Homo sapiens: one gene and its partner. The protein of the gene in region 1 purifies or fractionates together with the protein of each later gene. This does not show direct contact. Each region holds a gene or a part of one and is shown on either strand. Other genes may lie near its edges.

Region 1 (3,651 bases):
CCCTCCCCTTTCCACTTTTCACTTTCACTTTCCCCTTTCCTTTTCGCTTTCACCTTTCTCCTTTCCTTTCCTTTTCTCTTTTCCCTTCCCTTCCCTTCCCTTCCCCTTTTCCCTTTCCTTTCCCCTCCCCTTTTCCCTTTCCCTTCTTTTTTCTTTTTCTTTCCTTTTCCTTTCCCTTCCCCTTTCCCCTTTTCCTTAAGCCTTTTCCCTAAGCCTTTTCCCTTTTTTAACCCTTTCCTTCCCCTTTTCTCTTCCCCTTTCCCCTTTTCCTTTCTCCTCCTCTCCTTTCCTTTCCTCTTCTCTTCTCTCCTCTCCTCTTCTTTCCCCTTTCTCCATTCCTTTTCCCTTTGCTTTCCTTTCCTCTTTCCTTTCCAGACAGGGTGTTGCCCAGACTGGACTCACTCTTGGGATCAAGTGATCTCCCACCTCAGCCTCCTGAGTAGCTGGGACTATAGGCAGGTGCCACCTCACCTGACTAAGAGTGCTATTTTTATGAAGTGTTTCCTGCTGTCACATCTGCTAATTTGTAGGCTGTTGTCCAGTAGGCTAGAAATGTCTGCGGTTAACAGGTTTGCTCTACTCGTGTCCTTTTCAACTTTAATCTTCATCTTCACCAGGCTTAAAAAAATAGACTTCCTCAGAGTTTTAGAGATGTTCTTAATTTATCTGTGATTTCATTCTTCCTAACCCTGCCAACTAAAAAGATTACCAAGCTCAGTTTTGTTCCAGGGCTTAACATATTATTCATGAGAACAGGAACCTCCAAGTCTTTAAGCTTTATTTCAGCTAGCCCTTCAGTATGTATCAAGATAAACGTTCATTTAATTTTAATATTGGAAAAGTCACAGTGAAATTGGATTTCCTTAGAGCAGTGGATTTTAGACTCCTTTCACAGAGAGCACTTAAGGGTTTATGGAGATGCCCTTAACCAAGCTTGTCCAACCCATGGTCCACAGGCTGCACACATGGCCCAACAGAAATTCATAAAGTTTCTTAAAACATTATGCAGTTTTTTTTTCTTTAAGCTCATCAGCTATTGTTAGTGTATTTTATGTGTGGCCCAAGACCGTTCTTCCAGCGTGGCCCAGGGAAGCCAAAAGATTAGACACCCCTCCCCTAAGGACCAGCATGACTGGCAGTCAAGGAGGGGTGTTTGTACAGTGCCCAGGCTCTCAACCCTTCCTCAACTAAAAGAGTTAAAAAATTTAAATAGGCCGGGCATGGTGGCTCACGCCTGTAATCCCAGCACTTTGGGAGGCCGAGGCGGGCGGATCACGAGGTCAGGAGATCGAGACCATCTTGGCTAACACGGTGAAACCCCATCTCTACTAAAAATACAAAAAATTAGCCGGGCGAGGTGGCGGGCGCCTGTAGTCCCAGCTATTCGGGAGGCTGAGGCAGGAGAATGGCGTAAACCCCGGGGGCGGAGCCTGCAGTGAGCCGAGATCGCGCCACTGCACTCCAGCCTGGGCGACAGAGCGAGACTCCGTCTCAAAAAAAAAAAAAAAAAAAAAAAAATTTAAATAGAGGCAGGGTCTTGCTGTGTTGCCCAGGCTGGTCACAAACTTCTGGCTTCACGCAGTCCTCCCACCTTGGCCTCCCCAAGTGCTGAGATTACAGGCATGAACCATCACACCCAGTCTTCTTAAAAAAATCTCTTTTACCTATGAATTTGCCAGTAGGATTTATTGGAACAGAGGGCTCCAAGGCTTAGAAAGTTTGAAGACAGTGTCCTGAGAGGCTATCATTTATTTTATTTTATTTTTGAGATGCGGTCTCACTCTGTCACCCTGGCTGGAGTGCAGTGGTGCTGTCATGGCTCACTGCAACCTCCGCCTTTCTGGCTCAAAGGAATTCTGCCACCTCAGCCTCTGAAGTAGCTGAGACTACAGGTGCACACCAGCATGCCCAGCTAATTTTTCTTTTTTCTTTTTTGATACAGACAGGGTTTCTCCATGTTGTCCAGGCTGTTTTTAAGGCAAGAATCTAATTCTTTACTTTTCCTGCCAAAGGAGAGAGTATAAGAAAAGTGGGGCCAGGCTTGGTGTCTCATACCTGTACTCCCAGCCCTTCGGGAGGCTGAGGTGGGAGGATCGCTTGAGCTCAGGAGTTCGAGACTAGCCTAGGCAACATAGCGTGACTTCCACCTCTATAAAAAATAAACAAAATTAGCTGGGCGTGGTGGTGTGTGCCTGTAGCCCCATCAGGAGATCTTCAGGCAGGAAGATCTCTTGAGCCTGAGAGGTCAAGACTACAGTGAGCCGTGATGGCACCACTGCACTCCAGCCTGGGCGACAGAGCAAGACCCAGTTCCCCCACTCTCGCCCCCACAAGAAAAAAAGATAAATGGCACAGGTAGGAAGAGAAAAGGGAGGGTGTGCAACAGAAGGCCTGACATAAATCAAGATTATGAAAGGAGTTATGTGGTGTTGAGGAAAAAAGTAGCCTGACTAATCTCTGTCTATCCTTAATTTATTGCAGGTTTCAGCAACATTTGCTGCAAGTTTAGTCACCAGTCCTGCAATTGGAGCTTATCTTGGACGAGTATATGGGGACAGCTTGGTGGTGGTCTTAGCTACAGCAATAGCTTTGCTAGATATTTGTTTTATCCTTGTTGCTGTGCCAGAGTCGTTGCCTGAGAAAATGCGGCCAGCATCCTGGGGAGCACCCATTTCCTGGGAACAAGCTGACCCTTTTGCGGTAAGTTTATACTTTTTCCTTCTCCTTGATAAAAAAGTGCATGATTCAGTGCAGCATTAATATTTTGTTGTGGATATTTCTTTAGGGAAAACATCTTGGGTTTTTCTTTTAACATTTTGAAATACTTTTCAGAATAGTTTGGGGAATATGAAATAAATAAAAAGGACAACTAGTTGTCCATGAGTACACTGCCAAAAGGAATCTCTGCGTATTCTTAAGAATAGTTCAGTGGTTTTGATAGAAAACCTTATATCAATCAGTCTTTTTCTTGTTCTAGTCCTTAAAAAAAGTCGGCCAAGATTCCATAGTGCTGCTGATCTGCATTACAGTGTTTCTCTCCTACCTACCGGAGGCAGGCCAATATTCCAGCTTTTTTTTATACCTCAGACAGGTAAAATCCTCTTCCACTAAGGTGGACTTTTCTTTCATTGTCTAGTGCTTTAATAAAAATATTTAATCTTGAGAGAACTGTAATAGAAGTGGCCTTTAAAAATGAATATCATTGGACTTGGTATAGTGGCTCACGCCTGTAATCTCAGCACTTTGGTAGGCCAAGGTGGGTGGATCAGCTGAGGTCAGGAGATCAAGACCAGCCTGGCCAACATGGCAAAATCCTATGCTTACTAAAAATACAACAACTAGCCAGGCGTAGTGGCGGGCACCTGTAATCCCAGCTACTTGGGAGGCTGAGGCAGGAGAATCACTTGAACCCAGGAGGCGGAGGCTGCAGTGAGCCAAGATTGCGCCATTCACTCCAGCCTGGGTAACAAGAGCGAAACTCCGTCTCAAAATTAAATAAATAAATAAATAAATAAAAAGAATATTATTTGGTCTACTAGACTTTACCTCCTATTCTGTGTGGCTGATGTTCCTTATGCATTTCTAATGGGGGTTATTTGGTATATTAAGATATTTGGCTTAGGGAGAAAGATAGTTTTCCCTGTCCATATA
Region 2 (3,651 bases), on another chromosome or scaffold:
TGGGAGAATTTCTTTATGGGCAGTTCTCACACAGAAAGATGGGGAAAGATTATAGTTTTAGTTTCTAAAATTGGAGAGACAAAGGTAAAAATAGGGCAGGTCAAAGATGGAGATTGTTTTCTGAGGCCTGCTTCTGCTTCTGAGGCCTAAAGCACCCCAACATTATAGCAAGAGTTATGGTAGTTATAAGCCAGGAACCATGGACAAAAACATATGTGTCATAATATCACAGGGAACCACTGAGAAAAAGAGGAGGTGAGGCTGAAATTACTATGAAGGGGAATGGTCTGGCCAGGCATGGTGGCTCACGCCTGCTCAGCACTTTGGGAGGCCGAGGCAGGCGGATCACCTGAGATCAGGAGTTCGAAACCAGCCTAGCCAACATGGCGAAACCCCATTTCTATTAAAAATACAAAAATTAGCCGGGCACAGTGGTGGGCACCTGTAATCCCAGCTACTTAGGAGGCTGAGGCAGGAGAATAACTTGAACCCGGGAGGCGGAGGTTGCAGTGAGCTGATATTGAGCCATTGCACTCCAGCCTGGGCAACAGAGCTGGAGTGGGGGGGCCGGGCGTGGTGGCTCATGCCTGTAATTCCAGCACTTTGGGAGGCTGAGACAGGCGGATCACGAGGTCAGGAGATGAGACCATCCTGATTAACACGGTGAAACCCCGCCTCTATTAAAAATACAAAAAAAATAGCTGGGTGTGGTGGCGGGGGCCTGTAGTCCCAGCTACTTGGGAGGCTGAGGTGGGAGAATGGAGTGAATCCAAGAGGCGGAGCTTGCCGTGAGCTGAGATCACGCCACTGCACTCCAGCCTGGGCAACAGAGCAAGACAACGTCTCCCAAAAAAAAAAAAAAAAAAAAGGAGTCGGGGAGGGAGAATGGTCTGAGCCAATGGTCAGAGGGGAAAATTAAAAGACTAGTTGGAACAGAAAATTCTCTCCTCCTGCCACCATCATCCTGGGCTCCTCTCTGCTTGCCGGAAACAATCAGCAGCTGAGAACCCACAGATGGCGCCTCTTTCATAAAGCTGTCAGACCCATTCTTCTCTATTCCATGACCACTGCAGGCATTTCTGACCCCAACTACTGGAAAGGCTTAGCTCTACTGTCTCCTTTCCCAACCCATTTTAGAACGTGCTACCATGGAGATCTTTCCAAAAGCAAATCCAATCCTATCACTCTTTTCATTAACATCCTTCAGGAGCTCCAAATCACATACAGAGTAAAACCCAAAATCCTTAAAGTGTATGGAGGATCCTTCACGGCATAGCCTCTCCCTGCCTTCCCTAGCAGGCAACTATTTGGAACTCCAGACTCTCCTCCGGCCATCTCTGCACTACATTTTCCTAGTCTTTCAGCATCTGACCCAAAAATCTCTTCTGTGAAGCTCTCTCCCAGTCTCTCCCTTCAGTTTTATATGTACCTTTTATTGCAAATCTCTGTCTGATGATGCAGAGAAAACCAAACTCAGGTTCTCCTTCTGTACTCTCAATACAATCAACACAGAATACGTTTATCACCAGATGTGGGAAGAGTTCTTCCCACATGACAAGCAAGTAGTTGTTCAGCAATGAACGCCAGCTGGGCGTCCTCTAAATCAACTCAATTCGGATACTATCCACCTGCAGTAAGCCTCAGAGCTCAGATTGAGGGCTCAGTCCTACAAGGCTGCCCCCCCCCACTTCCGACACCAATCACAGGCCCCAGGTTGTTTTGCCTGGGTTTCTGACCCACCGGCTACAAATTGAGGTTCTTGCAACACCCTCTTTGGGTTCCATTAATTTGCCAGGGCAGCGCACAGAATTTTTGGGTTCTTATGGAGGCTTTATTACATAGGCATGATTGATTAAATCATTAGCCACTGGTGATCAGCTTAACCTTCAGCCTGGCTCTTACCCCTCTTCAGGTTGGTAGATGGGGCTGGAAGTCCAAACCTTTAATCCTGCCTTGGTCTTTCCAGTGACCAGCCCCCATCAGGAAGCTACCTAGGGGCTGCCAGCCATCTGTCAACTTATTAGCATACAAAAAGACACTTACCACTTTGAAAATTCCAAAAGTTTTAGGAGTTGCATGCCAAGAAACTGGAAGAATGCCTTATATATTTCACAATATCACAGTCTGGTTCTAAGGAACTTTTCTCCTGGAAGACACAGGTATGTCTTACTCATTTTCAGTCTCCCAACACCTGACCCAGCACCTAATCCTGAAACTAGCACAGAAGGATTGCTCAATCAATGTTTATGAAGGAAGACTGGGGCTAGTATCAGATTTATAGGTGATTAAACCTGAAGTAGGTAATAAGGAAAGAGAGGTGGGTGTGGGAAGATAAGTCTATGTAAAAATGTGACAGTTGAAAAGGGAGCCAATAGCTGGATCATTATCTCTCAAAGGTAATGGACCATGTCCTCTGTCTACCCCTCAATGACATACATGACCATTAGTGATGGGGATCAGACAGTAAACTACCATAAACAGACTAGGAACTCAAAGCAACCAACCAACCATCCACAAACAAAACCTCATTATCTGAACAGTCTGAATAGTTCCTGATAGTCTTTTTTGGAACCACTTTTCCTCCTTCAGCAAAGCTTGACCACAGAGAACAGAATTGAAGAAACAAAATAAAGCAGCATACTAATCTGATTTCTGCATTCTGGCTACAAAAGCTGTTCCTATAGCATTCTACATGAACAAGAAGAGATGCTGAATTTAATCCGCTGATGAGGGGGCGAAAAGCAGCCAAGGACACTCTTTTGCACACTTGGCAGGGTAGCACACAACCTAACTCCCAGGGGCTTGCAACAATATGTGATCTCCACCAGCACAACAGGGGCTTCAAACCACACATTTCCCACTACTACTGCCTGGATGTGGCTTCAGTGGTTGGTTGTTGGCTCTGCTTTAGAAATAAGTGGCCTATTGCAAAAATGCTCTAATGCCAACAGGTTGCCACACAAGCACGCCTTTGGAAATAATTTCTGCTGGCTGTAACTTAAACAAACAAGGAAAAGACATCCATAGTGAGATGTACTATCCTTGATTCTCCAGATCAGTTCATTCTAAACTAGGAGGCAACACTGACATAAAGTACTGAACAGCCAGGCATGGTGGCTCACACCTGTAATCCCAGCACTTTGGGAAGCCGAGGTAGGATAATCACTTAAGCTCAGGAGTTTGAAACCAGTCTGGGCAACAGTGAGACCTTGTCTCTACCAAAAAAAAAAAAAAAAAAAAAATTGGCCAGGCATGGTGTCACAAGGCCTGTGGTCCCAGCTACTCAAGAGGCTAAGGTTGGAGAATTGCTTGAGCCTGGGAAGTCAAGGCTGCAGTGAGCTGTGACTGCGTCACTGCACTCCAGCCTGACAGAGGGAGACCCTGTCTCTAAATGAATAAATAAAAGTACAATAAAAATACAGTGTTTCAAAAGTAAGCAGGAACCCACTGTTTAAAAGGCTCTAAATTCCAGCTACTAGAGGGCACATTTCCATATACATACATAAAGCATCTCTATGATATAATCAGGGACCCCATCCAGTTAGAAAGTTTTTTTTTGGGGGGAGGGGGAGGTCTCTTGCAAATTAGGCCATTATAACGCCCAATGGTATACCCAGGAACTCGTGTCAAAATAATTCTAAGGCTGGGTAC

The links. Proteins that work in one complex are often made in the same cells at the same time.
Region 2: the proteins of SLC71A1 (region 1) and ANO6 purify together in Homo sapiens (affinity purification with mass spectrometry; one large-scale study listed by BioGRID and IntAct). This does not show direct contact.

Annotation. Positions count from the first base shown.
Region 1 is NC_000001.11:100,065,496-100,069,146, forward strand, and holds part of SLC71A1 (hippocampus abundant transcript 1 protein), read left to right. Parts: intron 1-2,481; coding exon 2,482-2,700; intron 2,701-2,977; coding exon 2,978-3,091; intron 3,092-3,651.
Region 2 is NC_000012.12:45,219,095-45,222,745, reverse strand, and holds part of ANO6 (anoctamin-6), read right to left. Parts: intron 1-3,651. UniProt on the Homo sapiens protein: Small-conductance calcium-activated nonselective cation (SCAN) channel which acts as a regulator of phospholipid scrambling in platelets and osteoblasts.